Linked DNA regions of Homo sapiens. The protein of the gene in region 4 purifies or fractionates together with the protein of the main gene of each other region. This does not show direct contact. Each region holds a gene or a part of one and is shown on either strand. Other genes may lie near its edges.

What was found.
Region 1: the proteins of EIF2AK2 (region 4) and STAU1 purify together in Homo sapiens (affinity purification with mass spectrometry; 4 studies listed by BioGRID and IntAct, with this or other methods). This does not show direct contact.
Region 2: the proteins of EIF2AK2 (region 4) and EBNA1BP2 purify together in Homo sapiens (affinity purification with mass spectrometry; 2 studies listed by BioGRID and IntAct, with this or other methods). This does not show direct contact.
Region 3: the proteins of EIF2AK2 (region 4) and CHUK purify together in Homo sapiens (affinity purification with western blotting; 3 studies listed by BioGRID). This does not show direct contact.

The regions. Positions count from the first base shown.
Region 1 is NC_000020.11:49,149,053-49,158,558, reverse strand, and holds part of STAU1 (double-stranded RNA-binding protein Staufen homolog 1), read left to right. Parts: intron 1-61; coding exon of another isoform or gene 62-122; intron 123-4,487; coding exon 4,488-4,626; intron 4,627-6,811; coding exon 6,812-6,977; intron 6,978-9,506. UniProt on the Homo sapiens protein: Binds double-stranded RNA (regardless of the sequence) and tubulin.
Region 2 is NC_000001.11:43,163,684-43,170,257, forward strand, and holds the end of EBNA1BP2 (probable rRNA-processing protein EBP2), read right to left. Parts: intron 5,346-6,574; coding exon 5,256-5,345; intron 3,553-5,255; coding exon 3,477-3,552; intron 3,237-3,476; coding exon 3,143-3,236; intron 1,123-3,142; coding exon 960-1,122; intron 811-959; coding exon 760-810; 3' UTR 501-759; downstream 1-500. UniProt on the Homo sapiens protein: Required for the processing of the 27S pre-rRNA.
Region 3 is NC_000010.11:100,186,302-100,192,604, reverse strand, and holds the end of CHUK (inhibitor of nuclear factor kappa-B kinase subunit alpha), read left to right. Parts: exon of another isoform or gene 1-146; intron 147-463; exon of another isoform or gene 464-612; intron 613-1,636; coding exon 1,637-1,736; intron 1,737-2,977; coding exon 2,978-3,007; 3' UTR 3,008-3,096; coding exon of another isoform or gene 3,097-3,177; 3' UTR 3,178-4,305; downstream 4,306-6,303.
Region 4 is NC_000002.12:37,116,483-37,125,988, reverse strand, and holds part of EIF2AK2 (interferon-induced, double-stranded RNA-activated protein kinase), read left to right. Parts: intron 1-3,324; coding exon 3,325-3,483; intron 3,484-5,849; coding exon 5,850-6,030; intron 6,031-9,506.

The DNA.
Region 1 (9,506 bases), on a different chromosome or scaffold from region 4:
GGATTACAGGCATGAGCCACTGCACCTGGCCAATAAAGGATTCTTTGTTTTTTTCCTTTAGTGGAAGCCGTGCACTGAGGGAATCCTAAAAGTAAGACCTACAAGAAAAATCAGCTATGAAGGCAAGTTGCCTCACCCCTTAAGGCACCAAATTTAAATGACCTAGACATACTGAAATCCAGGTTTCCCTTGTAAATTATTTGTAAGTGAGATAAAGTGATATTCAGTGATTACATCAGAAGAATAAAAGCTTCAATTAATTTTTTCTTTTTTTGAGACGGAGTTTTACTCTGTCATCACCCAGGCTGGAGTGCCATAGCGTGTTCTCGGCTCACTGCAACCGCAACCTCCCGGGTTCAAGTGATTCTCTTGCCTCAGCCTCCTGAGTAGCTGGGATTACAGACACGTACTACCACACGTGGCTAATTTTTGTATTTTTAGTAGAGGCAGGGTCTCACCATGTTGGCCAGGCGGGTCTTGAACTCCTGACCTCAGGTGATCTGCCCGCCTCTGCCTCCCAAAGTGCTGGGATTACAGTTGTGAGCCACCACACCCGGCCGCTTCAATTGATTTGTTAAATTCCAAAGTAGTGAATCTCAAATCTTTGGGGTGCATCAGAATTACTTTGAGAACTTAATAAAAATAGAAACGCTCATGCCTTAAATCCTATCACTTTGGAAGGCTGAGGCGAGAGGATCACTGGAGCCCAGGAGTTTAAGACCAGCCTAGGCAACATAGGGAGACCCTGCCTCCGCAAAAATTAAAAAATTACCCAGGTATGGGCCGGGCATGGTGGCTCACGCCTGTAATCCCAGCACTTTGAGAGTCCAAGGCGGGCAGTTCACAAGGTCAAGAGACCAAGACCATCCTGGCCAACATGGTGAAACCCCATCCCTACTAAAAATTCAAAAATTAGCTGGGCGTGGTGGTGCATGCCTGTAGTCCCAGCTACTCAGGAGGCTGAGGCAGGAGAATCGCTTGAACCTGGGAGGCGGAGGTTGCAGTGAGCTGAGATCATGCCACTACACTCCAGCCTGGCGACAGAGCAAGACTGTCTCAAAAAAATAAAAAAAAAAAATTAGCCAAGTATGGTGGTGTGTGCCTGTAGTCCCAGCTACTCAGGAGGTTGAGGTGGGAGGATTATTTCAACCCAGGAGGCTGCAGTGAGCTATGATTGTGCCATTTGAGCTCCAGCCTGGACAGCAGAGCAAGACCCCATTTCAAAAACTGAAAAAAAGGGTGGTTATGTTTTCAAACAAGAGCCCACAAACACATTGCAGCATCAAAACAAACATTGTCTTAATTTGTGTGAAGTACTGCTGTGTGTTTAAATCAAGTTTGCAAAATATCTTTCATGAGAAGTAATTGGAAGAGAATTTTGAGGCTGGACGTGGTGGGTCATGCCTGTAATCCCAGCACTTTGGGAGACTGAGGCAGGTGGATCACTTGAGGTCAGGAGTTCGAGACCAGCCTGGCCAACATGGTGAAACCCTGTCTCTACTAAAAGTACAGAAATTAGCCGGGCATGGTGGCAGGTGCCTGTAATCCCAGCTACTCGGGAGACTGAGGCAGGAGAATTTCTTGAACCCAGGAGGTGGAGGTTGCATTGAGCCAAGATCACACCACTGCACTCTAACCTGGGGACAGAGTGAGACTGTGTCTCTTAAAAAAAAAAAAAAATTTCAGTGCATACACACACAATCTCTTTTTTTTGTTGTTGTTTATAAAAAACAACAAAAAAGGATAAGAAGGGGATGACAGGATGAATTATCAAGATAAGACCAGGCCTCTTAAACCATGACCATAGAAAGTGTTCAAGGTTCAAGTGACATATTACAGTCAATGTCAGGTTTCATGAATTTGAGAGCTCACACTTTTCATTTCTAGGAATTTACAGTACTGCTGACACTTGGAAATCAGCAATGGGGAGCTGAGTGAACTGGTATTAAAAAGGTCAAACACACAGCTGCTGCTAAAGCTTTGGAGGGAACAAAATTTCCTAAGCCCATAGTCAGCCCTTTTGGTAGCGAAGGAAGGAATCCAGGTCTTATGCATGGGCCAAACAGGTACCTTTCAAAAGTGTGTCTAGAGGTACCATGTAGTATGTATATGAATGGTTTCTTAACTTGTTGATTTTGAAAGCACAGATTCTACACTACCAGTGACAAATGCTTATTTTTTAGGAATCCTTAACCTCATTGTAAAGCAGTGGTTTCCAATCTATGATGCCTTAACGCCTGACAATCTGGAAAGGCGGTCATAGGAAGGATGGCGGGTGACCAGATAATTTCAAAGATTTCCGAAGTTTAATGAAAATATATTTTTGATAAGAGTGTATAGATTAGCAAGAATATAAGTTTAATTTAGAGTCACATCAAGTCAGTGTGGTAATATTGATTGTAATTTTGTTGGTCAGAAGTGCTTATTGCCAGTTGTATGTCTCTTAGTTATTAAAAAGAATGAGAAAAATGTAAATATTACTTAAATACAAGCCAGCAGGTAGTATCTCCTCAGACAAGGAGCCCATTCAGGGAGCATACTAATCAAGAAGGCATGGCTGGTGAAGGGTTGGGGATCAGTGACCTGGAGGCTGTGTCATTAATGGCTGTTTTAGCAGAGACCCCCTCACATGCATGAAGTCATCCCAGGTCTTCGTATGTAGGAAGGAATCTGGGAAGTTACCAGTCACATCTTTCTTGTTACTTTTGATTTCTTTGCAGTATACTTTCTTCATGTTTATTCTCTATTGCAGACAAATTCTGTGGATCAGAGCTGCTCTTAAAATGATTCAGACTGTACTTAAAATGCAATTATATGAATTTTGTAAAAAATATAATTCTAATGCAAGGAAGAGAGAGATCTGTAATTCATGTGGCCCTCTGTGCAAACCCCAAAGATATTCTTATAGATTTGATTCATGCATTAAATTTAGTTGAACCAGTTATAGTACAGAATCAGGTCTTTTTTATTTCTCTCTATATACATCCTAAAGAGGCATTTTAAAGTGGATTTTTATGTGCATTTAGATTTTGCCATTTCTAGTGTTCTGTTTTTGATATGAAAGTGTTGTTTTTAAATATTGTGCACTGACACTAATCTTTCCAGGCTGGTTTTCTTTTTAAATGGTTTTTAAAGGTTTATGGATTGGATGAACTGAAAGAAAAAAAAATTGGAAAATGAATAGCATGTATTTTCTGAAGTTGATAATTTTGAGATAACTTGTTGTGTATGAAAATGGAACTCATTTTCGTAGCAAGTATGACCACAGGTCAAATTCATTAGAAATGTCAAGAATGGAAATACCTGAATATTTTGTGGGCCTTGTGTGACTTCTGTGAAGAGAATTGGGTTGCCACCTCCTCACTGATTTTTCACCTTTAAGTTGCACATCATGTTGTATTGTAACTCTTTGAGTGTGCTTTGTGTTTTTTGAACTCCTCTGGGGCAGGAATTGTGTTTCTTTTTTTTTTTTAAGACAGAGTTTTGCTCTTGTTTCCTCATCTGGAGTACAGTGACGCAATCTCGACTCACTGCAACCTCTGCTTCCTGGGTTCAGGCGATTCTCCTGCCTCAGCCTCCTGAGTAGATGGGATTACAGGCATGCGCCACCATGCCTGGCTAATTTTTTGTATTTTTAGTAGAAACGGGGTTTCACCGTGTTAGCCAGGCTGGTCTCGAACTCCTGACCTCAGGTGATCCACCCGCCTCGGCCTTCCAAAGTGCTGGGATTACAGGTGTGAGCCACCCTCACTGCAAGGTCCGCCTCCCAGGTTCACACCATTCTTCTGCCTCAGCCTCCTGAGTAGCTGGGACTGCAGGCACCCGCCACCATGCCTGGCTAATTTTTTGTATTTTTTAGTAGAGATAGGGTTTCACCATGTTAGCCAAGATGGTCTCGATACCCTGACCTTGTGATCCTCCTGCCTTGGCCTCCCAAAGTGCTGGGATTACAGGCGTGAGCCACCACGCCTGGCCAGGAATTGTGTTTCTTAAGCTTAGCACAGTGCTTTGCATCCAGTTAGTAATGTAATAAATGCATCGTTCAATACTGTGTACGGACATACTTCTGAGTGCAAGCCAATAATCCTGTAAATCAGTACAACCAAGGTTATATTGATTAAGTATTCTCAAACAGTAAAACAATTTGGACATTTACATGGGATTTTTTAATCGTGAAATTTGATGTGTTTTGGAACTTATTTCTGACAGCTGTACCATATAGCTTTCACTGATAATGTCTTGGGTTAAATTGTGGCTCCTCTGGTAACCCTCAGAGTAGATTTTGTGCTGTCGACTGTGTATAAATATCTAGAAATCACAGCATATTCTTGGATTTCCTTGTCTGATGCCTAGCAGTGAGCCACCCAGGTCCTTTTATGTAAAGTATCATGAATCCAATTAGCAGAAAGCATGCTATTACATTTTATTTTAGTGAGTATCATTCTCATACCAGAAAAAAACAGTTCTTTGTCGATTCTTTCTTGCAGAAAGCATAACCCCTACTGTAGAACTAAATGCACTGTGCATGAAACTTGGAAAAAAACCAATGTATAAGCCTGTTGACCCTTACTCTCGGATGCAGTCCACCTATAACTACAACATGAGAGGAGGTGCTTATCCCCCGAGGTATGTGTTTTTTTTTTTTTTTTTTTGTAAAATACAGGAGAAAACGTGTCTGATCTTTTACATAAACCAGTACCTCTAGATTGTGGAGGGAGTAATGATTTGGTTTGGGCCTGCCAAGTGTTGAAGTTGGTCTTAATTACTCTTGTGCCTTTGTGCCCCTCCCCCGCCTTTTCTTTTTTTTCTTTCTTTCTTTTTTTTTTTTTTTTTTTTTTTTTTTTTTTTGAGACAGAGTCTTGCTCTGTCACCCAGGCTGGAGTGCAGTGGTGCAGTCTCGGCTCACTGTATCCTCTGCCTCCTGGGTTCAAGTGAGGAGGCTGTCTCAGCCTCCCGAATAGCTGGGATTACAGGCACCTGCCACCACGCCTGGCTGATTTTTTTTTGTATTTTTTAGTAGAGACGGGGTTTTGCCATGTTGGCTGGGGTGGTCTTGAACTCCGGACCTCAGATGATCTGCCCACCTTGGCCTCCCAAAGTGCTGGGATTACAGGCGTGAGCCACCACACCTGGCTGCGCCTCTTTTTTTTTTTTTTAATTCATTGAGACAGGGTCTCCGTATGTTGCCCAGACTGGTCTTGAACTTCTGGGCTCAAGGAGTCCTCCTGTCTTGGCCTCCCGCAGTGCTAGGATTAAAGTGTGAGCCACCACACCCGGCCCTTTGTGCTTCTTTTTTTTTTTTTTTTTCTGAGACGGAGTCTCGCTCTGTTGCCCAGGCTGGAGTGCAGTGGCATGATCTCGGCTCACTGCAAGCTCTGCCTCCCGGGTTCATGCTATTCTCCTGCCTCAGCCTCCCAAGTAGCTGGGACTACAGGCGCCTGCCACCACACCCGGCTAATTTTTTGTATTTTTAGTAGAGACGGGGTTTCACCTTGTTAGCCAGGATAGTCTCAATCTCCTGACCTCATGATCCGCCCACCTCGGCCTCCCAAAGTGCTGGGATTACAGGCATGAGCCACCACGCCCGGCTCCTTTGTGCTTCTTTAACTACTGCTCTTGGGTAGGGCCTGAGCATATTTCTTGCTGGCAGTGTGGCTTGTGCCCTCAAGCAGCCTGGCTAAAGATAACCCTTGTAACTGCTTTGTGTAACTGAATCATATTTAAACATGATTCCCATAGCATCATGATTCCTGCAAGACAATGATTCCCAGCATTTGTAGATTACCTGATTATTGGGTACTTTTTGACTTTTGAACTTGTGCGTTTTGTAAATAGCTTTGGTGCAATAAAATATTAATTGAAACCTGAAAATGCCATGGATTAAAAATCTTCTGCTGGCAGTAATAAGACATTAGTGGAGGCCAGGTGTGGTGGCTCACGCCTGTAATCCCAGCTCTTTGGGAGGCCAAGGCAGGCGGATCATGAGGTCAGGAGTTTGAGACCAGCCTGGCCAACATGGTGAAACCCTGTCTCTACTAAAAATACTAAAAATACAGGCATGGTGGCAGGTGCCTGTAATCCCAGCTACTCGGGAGGCTGAGGCAGGAGAATCGCTTGAACCCAGGAAGCGGAGGTTGCAGTGAGCCGAGATCGCACCACTGCACTCCAGCCTGGGCAACAAGAGAAACTCCATCTCACAAAAAAAAAAAAAAAAAAAAGACATTAGTGGATAGATGATGAGCAAAATGGAATTCTTCATTTCCCTGCTCTCTGTTGGGGGATAGTCATTTTAAAAATATAAGCTATGAAATGGATAAGAAACTGGGTTCTGCTAGGGAAATGGATAAGAAACTGGGTTCTGCTAGGTAGGCTACAGCTTATTGGGATTTCTTGAAATGAGGGTCCTTTTGAAAGACTTGTGCATTAAAATTCCCAGCCTCCTATTGGAGACATGCAAATTTAAAGCTAAGGTTTGAGAAGGCAGAGCAAGCCAAGTTTTTGTCTCAGCCAAAGCCTAATTCATTTTAGATTTTGTCAGTGCAGGTTAGTGTGATAAACTCATAATTTATAAGCCATTGTATTTTGTGAGATGTAAGTTTGGATTGCTAAACACTCTTTGCTTATACTGTGTAGCAATTCTAATCCAGTTTAAGCTTTTATGAAATCTCTGGATATATTGATGAAGAGTGATTAGCATCAAACACTAATGTGAGTAGGATCGTGATGAAGGAAATACTTGCATTTGCCAGAGAGTGTATAGGTGACTTATCAACTTGAGACTGTAATTTGCCTAACCTCCTTTTATTTCTAGGTACTTTTACCCATTTCCAGTTCCACCTTTACTTTATCAAGTGGAACTTTCTGTGGGAGGACAGCAATTTAATGGCAAAGGAAAGACAAGACAGGCTGCGAAACACGATGCTGCTGCCAAAGCGTTGAGGATCCTGCAGAATGAGCCCCTGCCAGAGAGGCTGGAGGTGAGGAGTTGAGCCCAGGCTCCCTGACGCTTCGACAGGGTAGGAGGGTAGTGGGGAGATGTCACCGCACATTATCTTTTCTAAGAAGGCACATTGACAGCTGTCCATAATTTTTATTTGAATGCCTCCAAGATTTTATGCTCTGTAGCTTTCTTGCTTTTTACTCCTTTTTTCCTTTTAAAATTTCTTAACAAGAAAGTCAGTTGCCTTCTTTTTCAGTCTGTAGCATGGTTTTGAGTGACATGATACGGTGTGAACACGTTAGAAAGTTTGTGATTCAGTTGAGTTGTGAAGAACATGTATGGATGAAGTCTTCGGTGCTCAAGATTATGCTTGCCAGAATCTACTGTGATATATGGGTACCAGGTTAGAGGATTTTCTGAAGCTGTTTTTTACCAGCCACTCTTGATTATATAGAAGCGCCAGTTACCTTTTGCCTCATAACAGACCATCATAGAATTTAGTGATGGTTTAAACATCTCCAGGCATTTATTTTGCTTATGAGTCTGTGATTGAGGCTGGGCTTGGCAAGGGTGTAGCTTGTCTTCGTTCCACACAGCTTTGGTTGAAGTGGATCTGCACGGGGCCGGAGGATCTGCTTTTAAGGTGGCTCACTCACGTGGCTGGTAAGTTGGTGCTTGCTGTCAGCTAGGAGCTCAGCTGGGGGTTCTGGCCCCAGGACCTCAGTTCATCCCTGGGTGACCTATGGAAGGATTGCTTATACTTCTTCATGTTATGGTGGCTGGTTGCCAAGAGTAAGCATCCTAGAAGATGGGAAATGGAAGCAGCTGCCAGTTTCTTAAGGCTTAGGCTCAGAAATCACAGCATCGTGTCTGCCATATTCTACAGGTCAAGCAGTCATGGAGCCCAGATTCAAAGGAAGGAGATATAGAATGTCACTTAGAAAAAAAAAATTGAGGTGGCTGGGCGCAGTGGCTCACGCCTGTAATCCCAGCACTTTGGGAGGCCAAGGCGGGTGGATCATGAGGTCAGGAGATTGAGACCATCCTGGCTAAGATGGTGAAACCCCATCTCTACTAAAAATACAAAAAATTCGCCGGGCGTGGTGGTGGGCGCCTGTAGTCCCAGCTATTCGAGAGGCTGAGGCAGGAGAATGGCATGAACCCGGGAGGCGGAGCTTGCGGTGAGCCGAGATTGTGCCACTGCACTCCAGCCTCAGGGACAGAGCGAGACTCTGTCTCAAAAAAAAAAAAATGGAGGTAAAAATTATATAACCTAAATTGACTATTGTAAGTGTACAATTCAGTGGATTTTAGTACGTTCACAATATGGAGAATCCCATTTCCAGATGATGAAAGGATTGTCAAAGAATTAGGGGCCATGTTTTAAAACCACCATGATAGGAAAAGGATTTTAACATTTTTGTGACTAAATAGCAATATAATTCTTAGGGAATCAGTAACTCCATGCCATTGAGGGGTCAAAGCATTAGTGAATATCTTTGGCCAGGCAGAATCTTATCACAGATAGAGTCACAAAGTCTAGAAGAAGTCCAGTGAATTGAAAACATTGAGATTTCATAATTCTGTTTAATCACAACAGGAAATGCCACCTGAAAATATCTCTGGGTAGCATTTGACTTTTCTTCACCAGGAAACATGTTCACAAAGAACAGGAGGATCCTGCACAGAACAGTGGGCTATGTGATGAGAGGTGTAGACCCGAGTGGACCTTGGGCAGGGTGCCTGCTGAGTCTGTTGTATCCAGCTGCCACCCAGGGTGACCCAACTTGGGCTTCATGGCTGGCCGCACAGGAGCGATTTGTTTTTCTTTTGTTACGCTGCATTTCCATTTTCCGCTATAATCACCTATTCTAACAGATGATCTGTTTCCAGGGCTCACTAAGGACCAAATCAAAGAAAATGAGGCTGTAACTAAAAGAGGAGGATTTAGTGAAGTTAAAAGAATGAGCTTTTCAGTGGTGAGATTTGTTAAAACACCAAAAAGGTAGTGTAATTTGAGTTATTTTGGAGGCTTTTCAGCTTTTTACTTGACTGTTGCTAATCTAATTGGAGTCAGATGGAGTAGGTATTTCTAGTCCTTCCAGCCAATAGTTGATGAACAATTGCTGGACACTGCTATATGGCTTTTCTGCATCACAATCACTTGAGAAGTTAAAAAAATAAATTCTAGGCCCAACCCCGGGATTCTAATGCAATAGGTGTAGGGTGAGACCCAGGAATCTGGCTTTTGCTTTTGTTGTACTTGCTTGGGGGTGTGTGTGTGTGTGTTTTGAGACAGTCTCTCCCTGCTTTTGTTGTTCTTGCTGGTGTGTGTGTGTGTGTGTGTGTGTGTGTGTGTGTGTGTGTTTTGAGACAGTCTCTCCCTGTCACCCAGGCTGGAGTGTAGTGGCATGATCTTGGTTCACTGCAACCTCCACCTCCTGGGTTCAAGCAATTCTTGTGCTTCAGCTTCCTGAGTAGCTGGGACTACAGGTGCTCACCACCACGCCCAGCTAATTTTTGTATTTTTAGTAGAGATGGGGTTTCACTGTACTGCCCAGGCTGG
Region 2 (6,574 bases), on a different chromosome or scaffold from region 4:
AATAAAACTTAAAAACAGTGCCTGCGAAATTCTAAAATTCTAAGGAGGAAATTCCTATCAGCCCAAATTAAAGGCAATTTCAGAAATGCAAGGAGATAAAAAGTTTACCTCTCATCTTCCCTTTCTTAGTAAGATACCAAAAAATGGTACACAGCAAAAGAAGGCATATGCTAAGATGGGAAAACATGGGATTCTGGAAATAATGGTGCCAACTTAAACGGTCTAGAAAAAAGGTGACAGTTGTGTGGCATAACTAGGTTGTAGGAGAAAAATTATAAAGTGGGTAAAATGACAAAGCATCTGGAAAGAACTAAGAATATAGAAGGAAAATTAGGCAAGCAGAAGAATGTAAGGTGAAGGTTAACTGGAGGAAAAACCAAAAGCTGTACCACAAAGAAAATCACGGTGGCTCACACCTGTAAAATATGGGCATTGAGCTTTACAGGGATTGATCGTAATATAACTATTTAGAAGGATGAGACAAAGGAAATGAGAAGGTGTCAGTTAAATCATTATTTATCATAAAATGAAGGCAATTTGAACTCAATGTCTAAATTATCAATAGATAGCAATGGAAAGTAACTTCTCAATCTTTTAGTCTAGACTATTTAACCAAAGGTATGTGTTCCTTTAATAATTTTTCTTTAGTTTATTGAAAGAAATGTTTACAACATGACACCAACAGAAGGGATCAAAGTGTGTCGTGAAATTGCGAGTCTTCATTCCTTTTTCTTGGTTCTTTGTATTCAAAGATGCTATTTAGTGTGTTCTGTTCTTCATCTTCTCTCTTGTTCGTTTTCCAGGTCTCTTCTACAGAAAAAGACATACCACATCTGGTCACATAGCAGCTTGCCTTCTGCCCCAGGGTGAGGACGAACAGAACTGAAGGGAGAGGGCAGGGTTGGGAGTGGGAGGGGAGGCTGAGCCTGCTCCTCACCCGGGCACCTGGGCTCACTTACATTTGACCCTTTCTTGCCAGGCCTCTTGAGGCCTCTGCCATGAGCTGTCTTGGCCCGGAAGCTAGATACATCATCATAGCTCTCCCGAGTGTTCCACTTTGAGCCTTTCTTCTTTCCACCAAAACCAAACTTCTGGTTTTTATACCGTCGTTTAGCACTGGGCCTGGAAAAGAATGGTCCTAGACATCACTACAGCACTGTAAAGCCTGATGAACCTGATGGCCCAGCAATGCTCTCAGTTTCCTTTCTATAAGCAAAGCCCCTTAGGCACGTCTGTAACCCAGAATCTCATCCTTGGCCCCACAATCCTATGCTACAGCCTCTCTAGACAAACTCATCTAGCTCACCTATTTACAGTTTTGACCACCAGGGCAGGAAAATAAAGCAAGAAGCAGGGAAGGCTCTACATATATTACATGGCTTCCTGCTGTCTTTAGAAAGCTTTCTATTTTAACCAAATCTTATTAAATCACCCTCAGTTGTGTCTATTCCTCTCAAGGGTAAATACATGCAGTTAACATCCAAATGTAATATGTTACATTTGTAACATTCAAATGTAATGTAATGAATACGTTCAAATGTAAACATTCAAATGTAATTATAGGCATTCAAATAACATTCAAATGGAATAACATTCAAATGTAAAACTGGTCATCCAATAGGAATCTTGAATTCAGCATCTCCAAATTCACATCATCTCCTGGACTGGCTCTGCTTCCTGTACATATGCCCTCACTTGAGGCTGGCGCTGCTCCCACCAACCCAGACACACAGGCTAAACATGTGGGAGTCAGCCTTGGTTCTTCTCTCACTCTTTATACCCAATTCAATTACTGAGTCCTGCTCATTTCACCTCTTAAATGTTTCTTCAATCCTTATCTCGACTTTTGCAATAGTACCCTTGTCAATTTCCCAGCTTCCCTCAAGTCTGTCACTTATACAAAATCCACTGTGATCTTTTTAAAAACATGAATATAACCTGCTCATTACTGTTAGTACAACCTACAACCTAGTCTCTCCACTGCCTTCTGACAAAGCCCAAGCTCCTCAACAAGGCAAACCCACAGCCCAGGTCCCCCCAAACACATTGCACCCCTCCTTGCTTTGCACTGTATTCCCAGTGACACCAAGGGCTTACTGTTCCTCACAAAACCCTGAGGTTTCACATCTCGATGGCTTTGCTCGTTCAAGCTCTTACTTCTTCCCAAACCCAGCTTCTCTTCTATTCTCGTGGTTAATTCCTACTCATGCTTCAAGCAATGCTCAAGTCGAACGCTCCTCCAGAAATCCACCCCAGACCCTGTCAGGTATTTATAAAAGCTGACTCAGTACTAATCCCCAAATGCCTCTATCATAGCACTTACTATCTTACATGGAAATTATCATTTCCCCTAGGCCTGGTATCCAGGTATGCAAAAAAGCAGACTAGAAAAAACAATGAGAGCCCACATTCTCTCTTTCAGTCTTCATACTATGAGGCAGACACTATTTCCTCAACTTAGCAGATGAGGCAATTAGCATTTAGAAAGGCATGGTAACTCGTTCAAAACTGCCCTCCTACTGAGTGGTAGAGTCGGGATCTGAACCCTAGGTCTGAACTCTCAACCATCGCACTGTGTGATGGGGAATCAACTTTACTCAGCATTCACTTAAAGGGTGCCACATACTTAAAAGTACCTTCTTAGGATGGGTGCAGTGGTTCACACCTATAATCCCAGCACTTTGGGAGGCTGAGGTGAGTGAATCACTTGAGGCCAGGAGTTCACAACCAGCCTGGCCAACATGGTGAAACCCTGTCTCTACTACAAATACAAAAATTAGCTGGGTGTGATGGCAGGCACCTGTAGTTCCAGCTACTCAGGAGGCTGAGGCACAGAATTACTTGAGCCCAGGTGGCAGAGGTTGCAGTGAGCCAAGACTGTACCAGTGCACTGTAGCCTGAGTGACAGAATGAGACTGTCCAAAAAAAAAAGAAGTTTAAAAAGTGCCTTCTTTTACTCTTCAAAGACTGACATGGCTAAAAGGGCCCATCACACAGTCATAGGGGTCCTGGCCCCAGGCAGCAGCTGCACTCTCTGGACTCTATGGCTGCGCCGGTGGAGGTGCTATGTCTGCCATACTCGTGACCTGTGGCCCCATCGCACCTCACAGAACCAAAGAAACCATGCCAAAACCCTTCTCACCCCTTCCTCATCTGCTGGCCTTTGGCTCCTGCCTTCTTGCGCTGTGCCAGAGGTTTCTGATCTCCCTCAAGGAAATCCAGTTTATCAGAGAAGCCTGTAAGTGAAGAAGTAGTTTTGATCAGCACCATTGTATTTTAAGAATAAAAGTTTAAACCACCATATGAGGCTGTTATTTGCTACACTGATTTTAAGAGTCACATCCTGCTCTCCAACACCATTCCCAAAACTTTGATCCGACAGGTCCACATCAACCAAGAAGGCTCCAAAGCACTAAGTGTTCAAATCAACTCTAAAGTACCTGCTACCCTCGTTCCCCTATTAGAGATGTACCAACCTTTCTGATATTTCTTAATAGCATTCATCATATGGGCTTTCTCCTGCTGCCTCTTCTGAAGAACCTCCGTTTGCACCTGTGATATGAACACAAGGACCGTTACAGCCATTCCATACCATTACTCCAGTGTCTACATTGTCTTAATAGCAACACCATGATTAATACCACTACCCTCTGACATTTACTACGTGCCAAAAACTGTGTTAGGGACTCTAAGTATATTCTCAGATCTAGGTATATTCTTCATAGATGAAGATATATCTGTCTCATAACAATCCAGTGAAGTTGAAATTTGTGTTATCCCCTAAACTGAAGCACAGGGAAGTTAACTTGCCCAAGTCGCACAGTGAAAAAATGCACAGCCAAGATGACCCAGGCTGTTTGACTCCAAAGCCAGCACTCACCCTATTATACAATCCTGCCTACAAAACTGAAGTAAATCATGTTTAAGACTACATCGATTTTTCGCATCACATTTGGACAGATTAATTATCTAACTCACTGTTACTAGGCATGAAAGTACCAAAAGGAAGAGAAAAAAACAATGTCCCCAGGTAAAGAAAAGAAAAAAGTTTGAAGGATAAAAGGAGACACTTTATAATACTCTAACAGAGGGTTTCTCAATCTTGATACTGCTACAGTGTGGAGAGAATAATTCTTTGCTGGGGGGTAGGGGCCTGTCCTACACTGTAGGATATTTAGCGGCACCCCTGCCCTCTACCTACTAGATGCCAGTAGTACCCTCCCTCCCAAATTTGACAACTAAAAATATCTCCAGGCAGTCACAGAAAACTCTTGGGGAGCAAATTCACCCCCAGTTAACAAACTCTTCCCCAGTGTTTCCTTAAATTAGGAACAGTGAACTAATAGGCCCAAGTGAGTTTGTCTTTGCTTTTGGTAACTTTGGCTATGTTAAATTAATTACTGGTGTCTTTGAGAGAATCTCAGCCATCCACCTCCAGATCAAAGAAATAATAAATCCGCAGCAGGCCTTTTGTAGAGGACAGGATCCCAGCCTATTCCTACTTTGCTGAGAATGTATCAGTGAAATGACTCCAAACGTGGACAAGAGTTCTGCAGCCCAGATCACAAGTGCTTATGTCCAAATGTTGACGAAGTCTTAACACCCACACCAATCTTCCTCACATTCATTTCTTCCCACAATCCTAACTTTAAAATCTGTCATCTTCTTTCTTAGATGACCATGAAATAAAAAAGGAAAACCAAGAAAAGTTTTAGGGTATGCCTGATCTGGTGTTACATTAGAACTCAGACATTCATAGTTCAAACACGCAGGCAATCTTTCAGATTGGATGACAATCATTATGATAATTTCTTCAGGTACGTGATTATCACATAGATCAGTGAATCCCAAACCAGGATGCATTTCAGAATCACCTGGAAAGCTTTTGGGGAAGAGGGGAAAACAGGCACAGATTCCTGGGGATTCTGAAGTCTAGAATTCTGTTTTGAAAAATTTCCCCTGGTGATTTTGCTATAAGGTCAGGTTTGGAAACCACTCATCTGGACCCAGTGTACAGATGTGAAAACTAACGCCCAGAGAGGTGATTGGCTCACCTGCAGTCACCATACTACTCCTGGGGAACCACTCATGTCCAGGCAAGATTGTGCTCATGAATACCAGCACATACACTGAGAGACGGTAAATACATGATCAACACACAGTTCCGTTCAGTTCAGGGGACCAAGTCAGACCACGGCAATCTCATCTAACACACACTCCGCCTCTTCCTGTTCCCTGCACACTTTTCTTCTCACCTTCTTCCCGTATTTCCTAAGTGCTCGCAGTTGCTTAGCTTTTTCAGACCTCTCCATGGCAGCCTGTTTAGTCTGCAGCTTCTGTCGAATCTACAACACAAAATGCTGTCAGTTCATGTCATTTGAATCTGGAATGACCACTACTTAGGATTCGCTAGAGCAGGGAACAGATATTCCCTGTTCTTTAAACTGCGGAACTTATAAATCATCAGTTCCAACCCCTGAGGACAATGGGGCCCACAGGCTGAGCACTTTACCAAAAGTGCCAGAGTGAAGCCAGAGATTGAAAGTCACCTTCCCGCTCCCAGTGTGCTGTCTGTTTCATTATACAAACTGCCTATTTGTAGCCCAGGAAAGAAGACAAACTTCTCCCCATTTCTACTGTCAGTAGACTGAGGCTGGAAACCAGTATGCGGCCTCAGTGTCCTTTTCTAGTATACCACATACACAATAAAAACCCAGGCAGATACCAGGTGCCTAGCCTTTTCAGTCAAACATACACATTTTAGTTAAAGGATGAGAAGTTGTCAGTGAGAATTTGTACAGAGTTCACAGTAAGAAGGTGAACTACTACCACGACAAAAGCTCCCTAAAATCCAGCTTGAGACCCCAGGGTACTATTTAAATATACTTATCCCTCAGTATCCATAGAGGATTAGTTCTAGGACCCACTACAGATATCAAAATCCACAGATGCTCAAGTCCTTTATATAAAAATGGTGCAGCATTTGCATATAACCTACACTCGCCTCCAGTATCCTTTAAAGTCAGAGGACCTCAACTCCCAGGCCACAGACCGCTACGAACCCACTATGAATCTGTGGCCTGTTAGGAACCAGGCCGCACAGCAGAAAGTGAGTGACAGGCAAGCAAGCATTACCACCTGAGCTCCACCTCCTGTCAGATTGGTGGTGGCGTTAAATTCTCATAGGAGTGCGAACTCTACTGTGAACTATGCATGGAACTATGCATGCAAAGGATCTAGGTTGCCTGCTCCTTATGAGAATCTAATGCCTGATGATCTGAGATGGAACGGTTTCATCCCAAAACTATCCCCTCCCCAAGTTCATGAAAAAATTGTCATCCACGAAACTAGTCTCTAGTGCCAGACCGCTTCTTTAAATAGTCTCTAGATTACTTATAATACCGAATACAATGCTATGCATCACCTCATTCTCATGGATTCAATGTAGTTCTCGGCACACGGAAAATTCAGTTTTCCTTTTGCAATATTTTCAAATTTTTTTCCCCAATATTTTTGATCCAAGGTTGGTTGAATCCACAGATGCTGAACCCATGGCTATGGAGGGCTGAATGTA
Region 3 (6,303 bases), on a different chromosome or scaffold from region 4:
CAGCATTTCCTGGAAGCTCTGCCCATAATTAGTTTTGCAGAAGTGCAGCCATGTTACATCACTGCTCAGGAGGTCATGCAGTTGCACATTCTGTACTCTACTTTTATGAGAGAAAAGCACATGGCAGGAAGGCAAGCTGATATCAGGTATTTTATTTTTTTAAAGAAAGCAAGTTCCAGGGTATATATCTTGGGGTCATTATACATGTGGCCCAATGCAGTACACCTACAACTGTAGCACAGGCTATAATTAAATATATAGACTTTACAAAATACTCCAGTAATCAGAGTTGAAGGAAGTAAAATTTAATACTTTACTTACTTTTTTGCCTTTATTAAAGGCATTTAAGTTTTTTAGCGGATGTTAATGTTTACAAATGTCACCACAATACAGGTAATTTCCAATTTGAAGTGTAGTTGCTTGCAAAAGTATATCTGACAGACATTTTCAATGTATTTTCTAGAAGGAACACATTATATTTTGTTTTGAGACGGAGTCTCATTCTGTCGCCCAGGCTGGAGTGCAGTGGCACAGTCTTGGCTCATTGCAACCTCCGCCTCCCAGATTCAAGCAGTTCTCCTGCTTCAGCTTCCCGAGTAGCTGGGATTTCAGGTGCGTGCCACCATACCTGGCTAATTTTTGTATTTTAGTAAAGACGGAGTTTCACCATGTTGGCCAGGCTGGTCTCGAACTCCTGACCTCAAGTAATCCACCTGCCTCGGCCTCCAAAAGTGCTGGAATTACAGGCATGAGCCACCATGTCCAGCCAGAATACATTGTATAAGAAAATTGATTTCAATTATAATGTACCTGTGGTACTTAACTACCAAGGATTGGGAACTGTTTGACCATAATTTTTCCATCTGTTGGATAAGAGCTGAATCAGAATGTCATTCTAAGCTAATAGTGGCTATCATCCATGACCTAAAACGGACTCTTGTTAGGGGACTGAAGATTGGCAAAGGGAGAAGCTAGAGGCCATATAGAAGAGGAAAGCATGAAGGTAGAAACCACAATCAGGACTGCCTTCAAATATGAACTTCCAGGGATACTTCTTGGTTCTGGGTAGCTCCCCCACCACACTGTTTTCTTTTGCTGTCCTCAGGAATCAGCTTGCTTGTTTCGTTTCATTGCTATCATCTGTAGTTTCTAATGAGTTTTTCACTTTCTGTGATCTCTACAGAACAGATTTTACTTTTCTCTCTTCTCCCCTACATTTGTGTCTGTGAAGTATGCATGCTGGTGTTTTTACTACTTTTAAGGAAAGAGAAGTATTTAGAAACAAAAACGTATTTCATCTGTCTTTGCCACAAGGATTTTTTCCTCCCTAGTTACATTTTCACGGGAAAAACAAGTTGTACATAAGTGCATCTTACATTTCAGAGGAAAGTCAGACTGGAGTTATAGTGGACTTCTTATCATTAGTTAGGTAGAGGTAGAGGCAGCAGCCTGGTCTTAACAGGACTCTGCCTCTGTAGGGAGGGATGAGGAAACTAAAGACTACAGGAGTCAACTGCACTGGGGTACTGGGTTACAGGAAGGCTAGTGATCTTGCTAACCTAGAAGACTAGAAAGTAGAGGAAATTCATATGCCCTTTTCCTGAGTTTGAAAAGGCTTTGTTCTTTCATCTCACAGGGAGACTTCAGCACAAATGATAGAAGAAAATTTGAACTGCCTTGGCCATTTAAGCACTATTATTCATGAGGCAAATGAGGAACAGGGCAATAGTATGATGGTAAGTTTTGTGTGGATATGGGTGCCTGCTTTGGCTATGTTGGGTGCAAAAGGTTTAACTTTCCATGCTAGCCTTATCTGGCATTTGGGATGCATATGGGAAATAGAAGAACTCAAGAGGAAAGAGCATTTGGGGAATATCCTCAACCTTAAATCCTTATCTGCCGTTACTCAGGGATATACTAGGATTATGTCATCAATTATCTTCAATAATAGCATTTTTGGTCAAATTAAATGAGTGGTAAGCTTCTTCACAATGTGACCATTGAAATTGAATGGTTTGTTCTGTACCTTTTTGCTTCAGCAATCAATTTTCTCCATTAAGATGGGACTTGTACTTTAATTCAGATATGGTACCTCCCGAATAGAAAATAAATTATGTTAATATAGTTGTAATAATAAGTGTGTGTTAAGATTTGGTTACTATAAACTACTGATTTGTTAAAACTTGAGGAAATTACCATAAAATGTCTACTGAATCAATTTTTCCTGCATTTAGTCTTAATGTCAATTCTGTACATTTCCTCTTTCATTAAGAAAAATAGCAGTGGCCAGGCATGGTGGCTCACGCCTGTAATCCTAGCACTTTGGGAGGCCAAGGCAGGTGGATTGCTTGAGCCCAGGAGTTTGAGACTAGCCTGGCCAACATGGGAAACCCTGTCTTTATAAAAAATATAAAAATTGGCCAGGTGTGGTGGCACACACCTGTGGTCCCAGCTACTTGGGAGGCTGAGGCAGGAAGATCGCTTGAGTTCAAGAGTTTCAGGCTGCAGTGAGCCGTAATCCTGCCATTGCACTCCAGCCTGTGACAGAGTGAGACTTTGTCTCGGGGAAAAAAAAAAAAAAAAAGGATAATGGTGGCCAGCCATATGACATGTACCTGTAGTCCGAGTTACTAGGGAGGCTGAGGCAGAAGGATTGCATGAGCCCAGGAGTTCAAGGCTGCAGTGCATTATGATTGGACTTGTGAATAGCCACTGTACTCCAGCTTGGCAACATAGCAAGATCCTGCTCTCTTAAGAAAAAAAAAAAAAAGAAAAGAAAAGGAAAGAATAATTGTTTACTTCAAATATTTATGAAAAAAACTCTGAAATTTTTTTAAATCAGGAAATAAGGTAAATGAAATGATTTTTCAACTTTTGATTATGAAATGTCCAAACAGAAAACTTGCAAAAATGAACACCCATATACTTATAACTTATAGTCAACATCTAATTGTAACTTTTTCATGCCTGGTTTTAGAATCTTGATTGGAGTTGGTTAACAGAATGAGTTGTCACTTGTTCACTGTCCCCAAACCTATGGAAGTTGTTGCTATACATGTTGGAAATGTGTTTTTCCCCCATGAAACCATTCTTCAGACATCAGTCAATGGAAGAAATGGCTATGAACAGAAACTACATTTCTACTATGATCAGAAGAACATGATTTTACAAGTATAACAGTTTTGAGTAATTCAAGCCTCTAAACAGACAGGAATTTAGAAAAAGTCAATGTACTTGTTTGAATATTTGTTTTAATACCACAGCTATTTAGAAGCATCATCACGACACATTTGCCTTCAGTCTTGGTAAAACATTACTTATTTAACTGATTAAAAATACCTTCTATGTATTAGTGTCAACTTTTAACTTTTGGGCGTAAGACCAAATGTAGTTTTGTATACAGAGAAGAAAACCTCAAGTAATAGGCATTTTAAGTAAAAGTCTACCTGTGTTTTTTTCTAAAAAGGCTGCTCACAAGTTCTATTTCTTGAAGAATAAATTCTACCTCCTTGTGTTGCACTGAACAGGTTCTCTTCCTGGCATCATAAGGAGTTGGTGTAATCATTTTAAATTCCACTGAAAATTTAACAGTATCCCCTTCTCATCGAAGGGATTGTGTATCTGTGCTTCTAATATTAGTTGGCTTTCATAAATCATGTTGTTGTGTGTATATGTATTTAAGATGTACATTTAATAATATCAAAGAGAAGATGCCTGTTAATTTATAATGTATTTGAAAATTACATGTTTTTTCATTTGTAAAAATGAGTCATTTGTTTAAACAATCTTTCATGTCTTGTCATACAAATTTATAAAGGTCTGCACTCCTTTATCTGTAATTGTAATTCCAAAATCCAAAAAGCTCTGAAAACAAGGTTTCCATAAGCTTGGTGACAAAATTCATTTGCTTGCAATCTAATCTGAACTGACCTTGAATCTTTTTATCCCATTTAGTGTGAATATTCCTTTATTTTGCTGCTTGATGATGAGAGGGAGGGCTGCTGCCACAGACTGTGGTGAGGGCTGGTTAATGTAGTATGGTATATGCACAAAACTACTTTTCTAAAATCTAAAATTTCATAATTCTGAAACAACTTGCCCCAAGGGTTTCAGAGAAAGGACTGTGGACCTCTATCATCTGCTAAGTAATTTAGAAGATATTATTTGTCTTAAAAAATGTGAAATGCTTTTATATTCTAATAGTTTTTCACTTTGTGTATTAAATGGTTTTTAAATTACTTTCTTGATCTCTATTCATTATAAAAATCAGATTATAATAAAACAGTTGAATATGGCTTAGGAAAATATGAAGGTTCCATGAAGTGGAATTAAGAGCATAGAATAACTGTACTTTCCTTAGGAATAATAGGACTTATGGTAAAGGTAGTATTGGGCAACTTCTTTAAGAGTGTTTTCCTCTGAGATGTCCTATCACCACTATCTACATCTAAAAAACATGCTCGATTCTTGCCCTATAAACTGATGTCACAGCCCCACCATCCCCATTTTTGCTAGTGGTATCATTTTCCTAGTCAACCAAATTTTTTAGTCATCACATATCACTGTTCGTCATCTATTATAATAGGCAGTCTCTCTCTTGTTTCCCTGGTTTTAGAAGATTTTAGTAATAAACATTTATTGGGTACCTGTTACTTGGAGGGTATTAAGCTAGATGGCAAGATCTGAAACAACATAGGCAGTATAGTAAAAGTGCTTATCTGGGAGTCTGAACATTACAAGCCATCCAAGCATTGCAATTATTGTTAAGGATTATTTTCAATGGTCATGCATTTTCTAATATTTTAATAATTGGTTAAAGATTTGTTATAGCGTGGGGGCCGCTGCTGGTGTGTGGCTGGGGTTATGTCAGGGCAGCCTGATCTATATAATTTGGGCAGATGGTGTGAGTCAGAACAGACTATTATAGTGGGATCCCCAAACTTGCTTTTGATGCATGAGTTGGACCACTATTTTTTGGTGGGTAACAACTTTTCAGAGGGGAATGGCAGTTGTGAATTGTATACATTTCATTCTTTAAGCAATATTATGAAAAACTTCAGAGAATGTCTACAGAAAACAGGGTATGGAGCAAGTTATTTTCCATTCTTTTTGCTTTTTGGAAGTTAAAATAGCTAAGCTCTGCAAATATCATTTATTTGGAACAGATAAGGTCCCAGACATTCCTAGATAATAAAAATCAAATGAATGATACAGGTAAGTGTATTTATTGAAGGGTGTGGGTAGAGTGGTCTGGGAAGTCTTGCTTTAATGAAGACGGATTGATTCTATTTACCTCTTCTTACTTCCACTACTAAGTAACCCTGGGCCTGCAGTTTCCTAACCACTTGACTTCCTTGCCAACAGTCTGTCTCCACTTTCAGCCGTTTTATAGATTCATTGGCCCTAAAGCACTGCTTTCCCATACTTCCCTACCCAAGAGGGCAGGGGTCCCCAAGCCCTGGGCCGCGGACCGGAACCAGACAGTGGCCTGTTAGGAACCAAGCCGGATAGCAGGAGGTGAGCGGCGGGCGAGTGAGCATTATCGCCTTGAGCTCTGCCTGCTGTCAGATTAGCGAGTGGCATCAGATTCTCATAGGCACGCGAACCCTATTGTGAACTGCACATGTGAGGTTTGCCGGCTCCCTGTGAGAATCTAATGCCTGATGATCTGAAGTGGAACAGTTTCATCCCCAACCCACACACACCCCCACCCCGTCCGCTGGGTTAGAGGACTTTACAACCCTAGTCCACCTTGTCCAGTTATAGTTCCACCTCTAGCCTTTCAAGGCTTAAACCATTAATGTCCTTAATTTCTCTTGTATTCATCTATCTCCCAACTATACCTTTTTCCTTCCCTTTTTTATTTTTGGCAATATGTGCCCATGGTTTTTTAATTTAAAACGAACAGAATATGTAGTGACGCCTACCATAGCACTCCTTCCCATCACACAAGCCTTCAAGGAAACTGAAGTACTTACTTTGGTCTCCCTGGAGGATTCCCTCCGCCTCCCGCCCCATGTGCTTAGCAATTCTGTTCCTGTAGTCTGGATGGCCTTCATAAAGCCCTCACTGGACCAGCATTCTGGCACATAATAGGAACACTTAAAAAACGAGAGAATGATGCCGTTATATCTAATATCTTCCTCTTCTGAACTTTCACAGCACTTTATTTGCAACAAGTTTAGTTGCTCCTGAAGGGCAGGATCTCTGCCGGAAGCAAGTGCGTGCCACACAGTGGGGCTCCGCATACACTGCAAAAGGACAAATAAACCGAACAGCTACCGTTTGAGAGTGAGCGAGTGG
Region 4 (9,506 bases):
ACCGTGGCACCAGATAGAACCTATCATTACCCACAAAATAGGTGATCTTTGAGATGTTCTAGTCTTACCTTCTTATTTTATAGATGAGGAAACTAAGATCCAGAGATGTGAAGTGATTTTGTCTAAGATAAAAGCTAGATGGTAATTGTTCTCTGGTTGTCTGTTATTGTATAAGGCACTGCTCCAAAATGCAGTGCTTAAAAACAGCAATTTATTGTTGTCTCTAATGGTTCCATGGGTTGATTGTGCTCATCTGGACAATTCTCACTTGGGGTCTCAGAGGGATTTGCAGTCAGTAGTCATCTGAAACCTTGACTACAGCCTATCTTAGGCTGGATATCCAAGCTGGCTAGCAGTTGACACCGGCTGTGGGCTGGAAGTTCAGCTGGGACTGTCAATCAGAATACCTCCACATGGCCTCCCTATGGGGATTGGGCTTCTTACAACTTGGTGGCTGGGTTTCAAGAAGGATTGTCCCCAGAACAAGTCATCCAAAAGATCAGGAGTGAGTGGCAAGGCTTCTTTTGACCTAATCTGAGGAGTTCCAGAACGTCACTACCATCAAGTTATATTGGTTAAACAAGTCACTGAAGCCAGCTTAGATTCAAGGGGAGGCCAAATAGGCCCTACCCCGTAATTTGTCATTCTAGGGGATGAGTTCTAAGAATATTATTTAGGGACTGGGTGTGGTGGCTCACGCCTGTAATCCCAGCACTTTGGGAGGCCGTGGCAGGCGGATCACCTGAGGTCAGGAGTTCGAGACCAGCCTCACCAACATGGAGAAACCCCTCTCTACTGAAAATACAAAATTAGCTGGGTGTGATGGCGCATGCCTGTAATCTCAGCTTCTCGAGAGGCTGAGTCAGAAGAATTGCTTGAACCCGGGAGGCGGAGCTTGTGGTGAGCCCAGATCATGCCATTGCACTCCAGCCTGGGCAACAAAAGCGAAACTCCCTCTCAAAAAAAAATAAAAATAAAAATAATAAAAAGAATACTATTTAGGGAGGCTGAGGTGAGTGGATCACTTGAGCCCAGGAGTTTGAGACTAGCCTGGGGCAACATGGCAAAACTCCACCTCTACAAAAAATACAGTAATTAGGCCGGTGTGGTAGCCACGCCTGTAGTCTCAGCTACTTCAGAAGCTGAGGTGGGAGGACCATTTGAGCCCAGTAGGTGGAGGCTGCAGTGAGCCATGGTCACACCACTGCACTACAGCCTGGGTGACAGAGTGAGACCCTATCTCCAAAAAAAAAAAAAGAATGTTATTCAAATTATGGATTTATATCCAAGAAGATATAAATCACAGTGTCATTCATTAACAGTAAAAAGTTAGAACAAACAAAATATCCAGCAGTAAAGAAATGAGTATATATATTTTGTTCTGTCCCCTGATCGATGGCTGTTTTGCAGCCATTAAAAATGACTGGCTGGGCCAGGCATGGTGGCTCACGCCTGTAATCCCAGCACTTTGGGAGGCCAAGACAGGCAGATCACGAGGTCAAGAGACTGAGGCCATCTGGCCAACATGGTGAAACTCTGTCTCTACTAAAAATACAAAAATTAGCTGGGCATGGCAGCGTACGCCTGTAGTCCCAGCTACTTGGGAGGCTGAGGCAGGAGAATCGCTTGAACCCAGGAGGCGGAGGTTGCAGTGAGCCAAGATCGCGCCATTGCACTCCAGCCTGGGCGACAAAGCAAGACTCTTCTCAAAAAAAATGACTGGCTGGGTGCAGTGGCTCAGGCCTGTAATCCTACCACTTTGAGAGGCCAAGGCTGGTGGATCACTTGAGGTCAGGAGTGCGAGACCAACCTGGGCAACATGGAGAAACCCTGTCTCTACAAAAAATATAAAAACTAGCCAAGTGTGGTGGTGTGTGCCTGTGGTCCTAGCTACTAGGGAGGCTGAGGTAGGAGGATCGCTTGAGCCCTAGGGGTGGAGGTTGCAGTGAGCCAACATTGCCACTGCACTCCAGCCTGGGTGACAGAGTGAGACCCTGTCTCAAAAAAAAAAGGAAGAATCTAAAATAACATTATTTTAGGATTGTCAAAGTATCAGTAATTTTTTTTATTTTTGCAAATTTGTGTCATATACTTTAAAACTTCTTGCATTAAAAAATAAAATTGTAAAATGATTATTCTTCCTCATCTTTGAAATCTCCAATTTATTTACTGCACTTAGCATGGAATTTTCTTAGGTCTTGGCAACACATCCCTGTAAAGCCTTCCACCATTTCACCTTCTCTGCATAAGTTATCCTCTTTGTGTATATTTGCCACACATTGAAAATCCTGAATTAGGTACTTCACACTGCCTGGGTTACCTAGCCTTGCTGCCTAAATGTGGTTTGCTTGTGAAATACAAAGATTTTAACACAAATCTAAGCAAAACATAATGTATGATTTAGCTATGAAAAATTGCACTGGCTGGGTCCATTGGCTCATGCTTGCAATCCCAGCACTTTGGGAGGCTGAGGCAGGTGGATTGCTAGATCCCAGGAGTTTGAGACCAGCATGGGCAGCGTGGCAAAACCCCATCTCTACAGAAAATAGAAAAAATTAGATGGGTGTGGTGGTGTGCTCCTGTGGTCCCAGCTACTCAGGAGACTGAGGTGGGAGAATTGTTTGAGGCTAGAAGGTTGAGGCTGCAATGAGCCAAGATTGTGCCACTGCACTCCAACCTGGGTGACAGAGCAAGACTCTGTCTCAATAAAATAAATAAATTAATTAAAATGACATCACTGGCATTTCAAGAGTACTACAGATGATTTTTAAATTGTCTGATGCTTGGCATTAAGTCGCTGCCTTTTATTTATTTATTTTTTGAGACAGAGTCTTGCTCTTTTGCCCAGGCTGGAGTGCAGTGGTGCAATCTTGGCTCACTGCAACCTCCGCCTCCTGGATTCAAGCGATTCTCCTGCCTCAGCCTCCCAAGTAGCTGGGATTACAGACATGCGCCACTGTGCCCAGCTAAATTTTTTGTATTTTTAGTAGAGATGGGGTTTCACCATGTTGGTCAGGCTGGTCTTGAACTCCTGACCTCGTGATCCGCCCACCTTCGCCTCCCAAAGTGCTGGGATTACAGGCCTGAGCCACCGCGCCCGGCCACTGCCTTTTATTTTATCTTGAGAGTGAGAACTGCTATGTTTTTTTTCAGTATGTTCACTTTTTCCTTTTGAATGTCCTGGCTTCCATTCTAAAACTATGTGAGAACCACAGCAATGGTTTAATAAGGGAATGTAGACAGTTGTCTATTACATGAGGTGTTTTGTGGTTGTTATGAGGGATGTACACTGACACTGCCATGTTCCCTGTTCCTTTTAACTAGGAAGGCGGAGCGTGAAGTAAAAGCATTGGCAAAACTTGATCATGTAAATATTGTTCACTACAATGGCTGTTGGGATGGATTTGATTATGATCCTGAGACCAGTGATGATTCTCTTGAGAGCAGTGATTATGATCCTGAGAACAGCAAAAATAGTTCAAGGTAACTAAAAATAAATTCTCATAGCCATAATAGGATGGAAGGAAATTGTTATTTACTATGTATGGGCCACTGGATAAGGCTATTAATCATCACGATTAATTATCACAATTCCCTCTGAGAGACACTGTTATCTCTCCATTCCGAAGGTAAGGAGAAAGTGAAAATCTCTTCCTTGCTCCTCCTCTTGCTGCAGACTTGCTCTCACAACCCTCTGTTACATCCTCAGCTGTCTGCAAAATCTCAGGTTCAGCTTTCCTGACTCCATTGTTTCATGGAGAGCCTTGTTCACGTGCCGGCTTCAGCGCAGGCTGTTTAAGTGTAGTCTTGTGAAGAGAGTTTTAACATATAGATGCTGCATCTGGGGGCTCCCTCCTCAGCTACCAACACTTTTCTGTCCCTCTCTTAGGCTGTGATTGGTGTGGTGCCGTCAGAGGGTCTCTTTGGAATGTAACTATACCACTTATGCTGGGGTGGTGGGGAGTGAAAATATTTTTAAGACCACAAGCTGAGATGGGGGCACCCTCATGTTTTATGTCAGTTAAGCCATTGCCAAACAACTGGAGATCCTAAAGAGCTGGCATCTGTCTTTGAAAGTCACCCAACCTATTATGGGGACAGTCCTCTCACTAAAATCCTGAGGCCAATGGGGTCCCATTCATTCATTTTCTCCTGCCCCACCTCCATCTCCATGTCGTGTAAGTGAGAACATTATCATCAGTTCAGGAGTTATTGACCGTCAGCATACAGGACTTCAGCTTTCAGCAAATTCTTGGCTACCTCTTCCTGTTTTCAAGCTGACATATATACAAAGAATATAAATGAATATTGAGGCTAACTTAATTCAGAAAAAAAATAAAACGTGGTTAGCAAAAAAAAAAAAAAAAAAAATCAAGCCTCCAATTTATGTATCTTAGTAATTTGTTGGCACTTCTCTTAGAGTACCTTCCCTATTGTTTTAGGTTTGCTTTCCCTTTACTCTCTCCTATTAGACTATTATCCCCGTGACGGCAAGGATATAGTGTCTAACTGATTTTCTCATCTCTAGGTGCCTTTCATGCTTAGTAGATCAATGGTGAATTAAAAGGTTTCAAAGTTACTTTATATAATAATGAAATTTAGTTTCCTGCATTGTATTCATGTTCCTATTTCTATCTGTTAGCAATGGTGATTGCAGATCTTCAGCAATGAAGAATGGGTGGCTCATTTTTTTTTTCTTCTCGTTTTTTTTTTTTTTTTTTTTTTTGAGACGGTGTCTCGCACTGTCGCACAGGCTGGAGTGCAGTGGTGCAATCTTGGCTCACTGCAAGCTCTGCCTCCCGGATTCACAGTATTCTCCTGCCTCAGTCTCCTGAGTAGCTGGGACTACAGGCGCCCGCCACCACGCCCGGCTAATTTTTTGTATTTTTAGTAGAGACGGGATTTCACCGTGTTAGCCAGGATGGTCTTGATCTCCTGACCTCGTGATCCACCCGCCTCGGCCTCCCAAAGTGCTGGGATTACATGCGTGAGCCACCGCGCCCGGCCTCTTCTTTTTTTTTTTTTGAGACAGAGTCTTACTCTATCGCTCATGCGGGAGCACAATGGCGTGATCTCAGCTTACTGCAATCTCTGCCTTCTGGGTTCAAATGATTCTCGTGCCTCATCCTCCCGAGTAGCTGAGACTACAGGTGCCGCGCCACCACACCCAGCTAATTTTTGTGTTTTTAGTAGAGATGGGGTTTCGCCATGCTGCCCAGGCTGGTCTCAAACTCCTGAGCTCAAGCAATCCGCCAGTCTCGGCCTCCCAAGGTGCTAGGATTATAGGCGTGAGCCACCGTGCCCAGCCCAGCTCATATTTTATAAATTAGCTAAACAAATAAAGCTCTGGACATCCGGGAACTTATGATTGAAATAAAAAATGGCCTATTATATTTTGATTCAAATTTGTTTATTATATTTAGATTTCTATTTTGTGACATGTTTTGGGGTTCTTTTTTTTTCTTTTTTTTTTTTTTTTTGTGAGACGGAATCTCGCTCTGTCACCCAGGCTGGAGTGCAGTGGCGTGATCTCGGCTCACTGCAAGCTCCGCCTACCGGGTTCACGCCATTCTCTTGCCTCAGCCTCCCCGGAGTAGCTGGGACTACAGGCGCCCGCCACCACGCCTGGCTAATTTTTTGTATTTTTAGTAGAGACGGGGTTTCACCGTGGTCTCGATCTCCTGACCTCGTGATCCGCCCGCCTCGGCCTCCCAAAGTGTTTTTGGGGTTCTTAAGAAGATAAGGTATAAGCTTTTAAAAAGTTATGAAAAACTTTAAAAAGTTATAAAAAATTTTTTATAAATTTATATTTATTGTTACTTTTAACATACTGTGAATTTTATACCCAGGTCAAAGACTAAGTGCCTTTTCATCCAAATGGAATTCTGTGATAAAGGGACCTTGGAACAATGGATTGAAAAAAGAAGAGGCGAGAAACTAGACAAAGTTTTGGCTTTGGAACTCTTTGAACAAATAACAAAAGGGGTGGATTATATACATTCAAAAAAATTAATTCATAGAGATCTTAAGGTAAGTGGAAAATGTACTTTATTAATTGATATATATATAATATAGTAATTTTAAAATATATCTTCTCAGCTGGGCACAGTGGCTCACGCCTATAATCTCAACACTTTGGGAGGCTGAGGCAGGCAGATCATCTGAGGTCATGAGTTCGAAACCAGTCTGGCCAACATGGTGAAACCGTGTCTCTACTAAAAATACAAAAATTAGCTGGGCATGGTGGCGTGCGCCTGTAATCCCAGCTACTCGGGAGGCTGAGGCAGGAGATTCGCTTGAACCTGGGAGGTGGAGGTTGCAGTGAGCCAAGATTGTGCCACTGCACTCCAGCCTAGGTGAAGAGTGAGACTTGTCTCAAAAAAAAAAATTATATATATATATAAAATAAGATAGATAGATATATATTTTTTTCTCTAGTTTTAGAATAGTGGTTGATTGATAGTTATGAGAAAATGGTATCTGAACATTTCCATGCAAATAATTACTGTGACTGGCACAGCCAACTGGCTGCTCTGCCCCTGTTCCTCCTGCCTCCTCTAAGTGACTCAGCTTTATTTGAGAGGCAGAGGGGACTCTGTTGACTGTTGCTTTAGGAATATGGTTCCCTAATCTCTCAGTCATTACTCGCGAGGGCTGTCACAGCTACTGGGTCCAGAGTCTAATACTGTCTTGGTTAAGCATTTCAACCCCATGATTGGAAAATTGCGGTAATCCCGGACTGGGAAAGTGTATCATCCCTTAGTATTTTCATTTTCCTCTGGCTTTTATGGTCCGGACAAGGAGTTTCCCTATTTTTTACTTCTCATTAAAATGACAGAAGGTGAGAGACAGAATAGCCCTTCACAGCCTTTCCTCCATTCCCTATTCCCTGTGACTTGCCTAAGCCTGTCACAAGCTGGCCGTCCTGAATCCTGTCCCTGGACCTTTGCTCATGTTCTTCTCTCTCATGGGACACTCTTCTGCCTGCCCCCTTTGGTTGTAATTCCTTTACTGAGCCTTTCCTGATCACTCTGGAACTGCCTTTTTCTGTTCTAGGCAGAAGTACCTTATTTATGTGGCTATCTGCTTATCCCACCCCTCTAAAACAGCAAGGAATAAGGAATGAAACAAAAAAATTCCTTGAGAGAAATAAGTTCCCATATACACAGTTGTTTATTGGGCTCAGAGAGGAATGAGTAGCCCTTAAAAGGTATTGCTTCCGTGGTCTGCCCAGGGGCTGGATGTCTGATGCATTGGTGTTTTGAGTCTGTCTGGTTCCAATATGTCTCTTCTACAATATCTGAAGTTGTTCTTTGAAGGTGGAACATTGTCAGAACTATTTCAAAAGGATAAATGTAGAGTTGGTTATGCTTTCACTTTGGGATAAATCATACATATAGTTAAATAACAAATAAGCACAATTATTTCTATATAAAATAATTTGCAAATAAATGCAGAAGTGTAGGCATTAAGCTCCTAGTCCTCAGAATGAATTAGCAAAATTCTGACTGGTGCCTACCCACTTACCTGCCAACTATGCCCCACACCGTGTGTGCCCTGTGTCATGGACTGATCTTTTCTTGTGTCTATTTGCAGAGAATTTTTACTCTGGCTGCAGTTGCTCAAGGGTCAGACTTTATTATTCTTCTTAAATTTTTAATTTTTATTTTTTTTTGAGACAAGGTCTTGCTCTTTTGCCCAGGCTGGAGTGCAGTGGCACAATCACGGCTCATTACAGCCTTGACCTCCTGGGCTCAAGCAGTCCTCCCACCTCAGCCTCCCGTATAGCTGGGACCACAGGTGTACACCACCACACCTGGCCATTTTTGTGTGTTTTTTTTTTGTAGAGACAGGGTCTCACCATGTTTCCGAGGCTGGTCTCAAACTTTTAGACTCAAAGTGATCCTCCTGCCTCAGCCTCCCAAAGTGCTGGCATTCCAGGTGTGCTCCACTGCACCCGGCCTCAAGCTTTGATACTGAGACTTCTTTCATCTTCTATAACTTTTCAGGCTCTCACTACTACAGTTGTTGATTTCTCTCCTCTAAGAAAAGATACAATGAAGGTGTACAATTTTGGGGTTGTGTTTTGCAAAATAGCAGCTGTAGGTGGTTTTGCCAGAGAATGGTCTTTACCTAACACAGCCCCTCTTACAAAAGTCTCCAAGTGTTTACCACTTTCTGTTGGAATCTTAGGAACTAGACCAAAGGCGCTGGGAAGGGACATAGGGGTTTCTGGAGTGAGGGCTTCTTGTGCAAGGCTGCTTCTCTCTAAAATGTTCAGTCTCCTAAAGCCCAGGCTCTGGTCATCCTCAGCCTGAGCATCAGTCCTGTTCCTGTGCCTCCTAGGTGAAGTTTGCATCCCTTTTATATGATCTACAGCCCTATATTTTGTCTAATCATATTATAACTGATTAGACAAAATGTGGCATTATTGTTTTTATTTCTTTTGTGTTTTACAAGGTCTCACTCTGTTGCCCAGGCTGGAGTGCAGTTGTATGATCTCAGCTCACTGCAGCCTGGACCTCCTAGGCTCAAGCAATCCTCCCACCTCGGCCCCCCACATAGCTGGGACTACAGGTGCAGGCTACCAAGGCAGGCTAATTTTTGACATTTTGTGGAGACAGGATTTTGCCATGTTGCCCTGGTTGGTCTCGAACTCCTGAGCTCAAGTGATCTGCCGACCTTGGCTTCCCAAAGTGTTGGGATTACAGGCATGAGCCACCATACCCAGCTTCTTTTTCTTTTCTTTTTTTCTTTTTTCTTTTTTTTTTTTTTTTGAGACAGAGTCTCCTCTGTTGCCCAGGCTGGAGTGCAGTGGAGTGATCTCGGCTCACTGCAGCCTCTGACTCCTGGGTTCACGAGATTCTCCTGCGTCAGCCTCTCGAGTATCTGGGATTACAGGCGCCTGCCATGATGCCCAGATAATTTTTTGTATTTTTAGTAGAGACAGGGTTTCACCATGTTGGCAAGGTTGGCCTTGGACTGATGGGCCCACGCTGTCTGCCCGCTTCAGCCTCCCAAAGTGCTGGGATTACAGGTGTGACTCACCACGCCCTGCCCACTTTTTCTTTTGAATGAACTACAAAAAGTGATCTGATATTTTCACTAGATAGCCTCATCCAGCTTAGATATTTACACGGCTTCACAAATTCAATTTTCTGTTTCTTAGAGTCAGGTGATAGCCTTATGTGGGACTAGCAGTTTCACTTGCAATCCTGACATATTCCTACACATTGCAACTTGAACATAGCATAGGAATGTTTTCTCTCCACATCCACTCCACATCTGTCTACAGCTTTCCATCTGTATTACTGGTGTTAGGCTCCAATCTGACTGTTAATTGAATTCTAATCCAACTGCTAATTGCTGTATGAGCCGTCATCTCAAGCTGGCTTCTCGGAAGCTCCTCCTTCAGCCTTCCCTGGGCTTATGGTCTCTTCCCTCTTAGGTCCTTACTAGGTAGGCCCTCTCATAAGTGTGTTATCCCGTAGAGTCTGTGTGTTTAG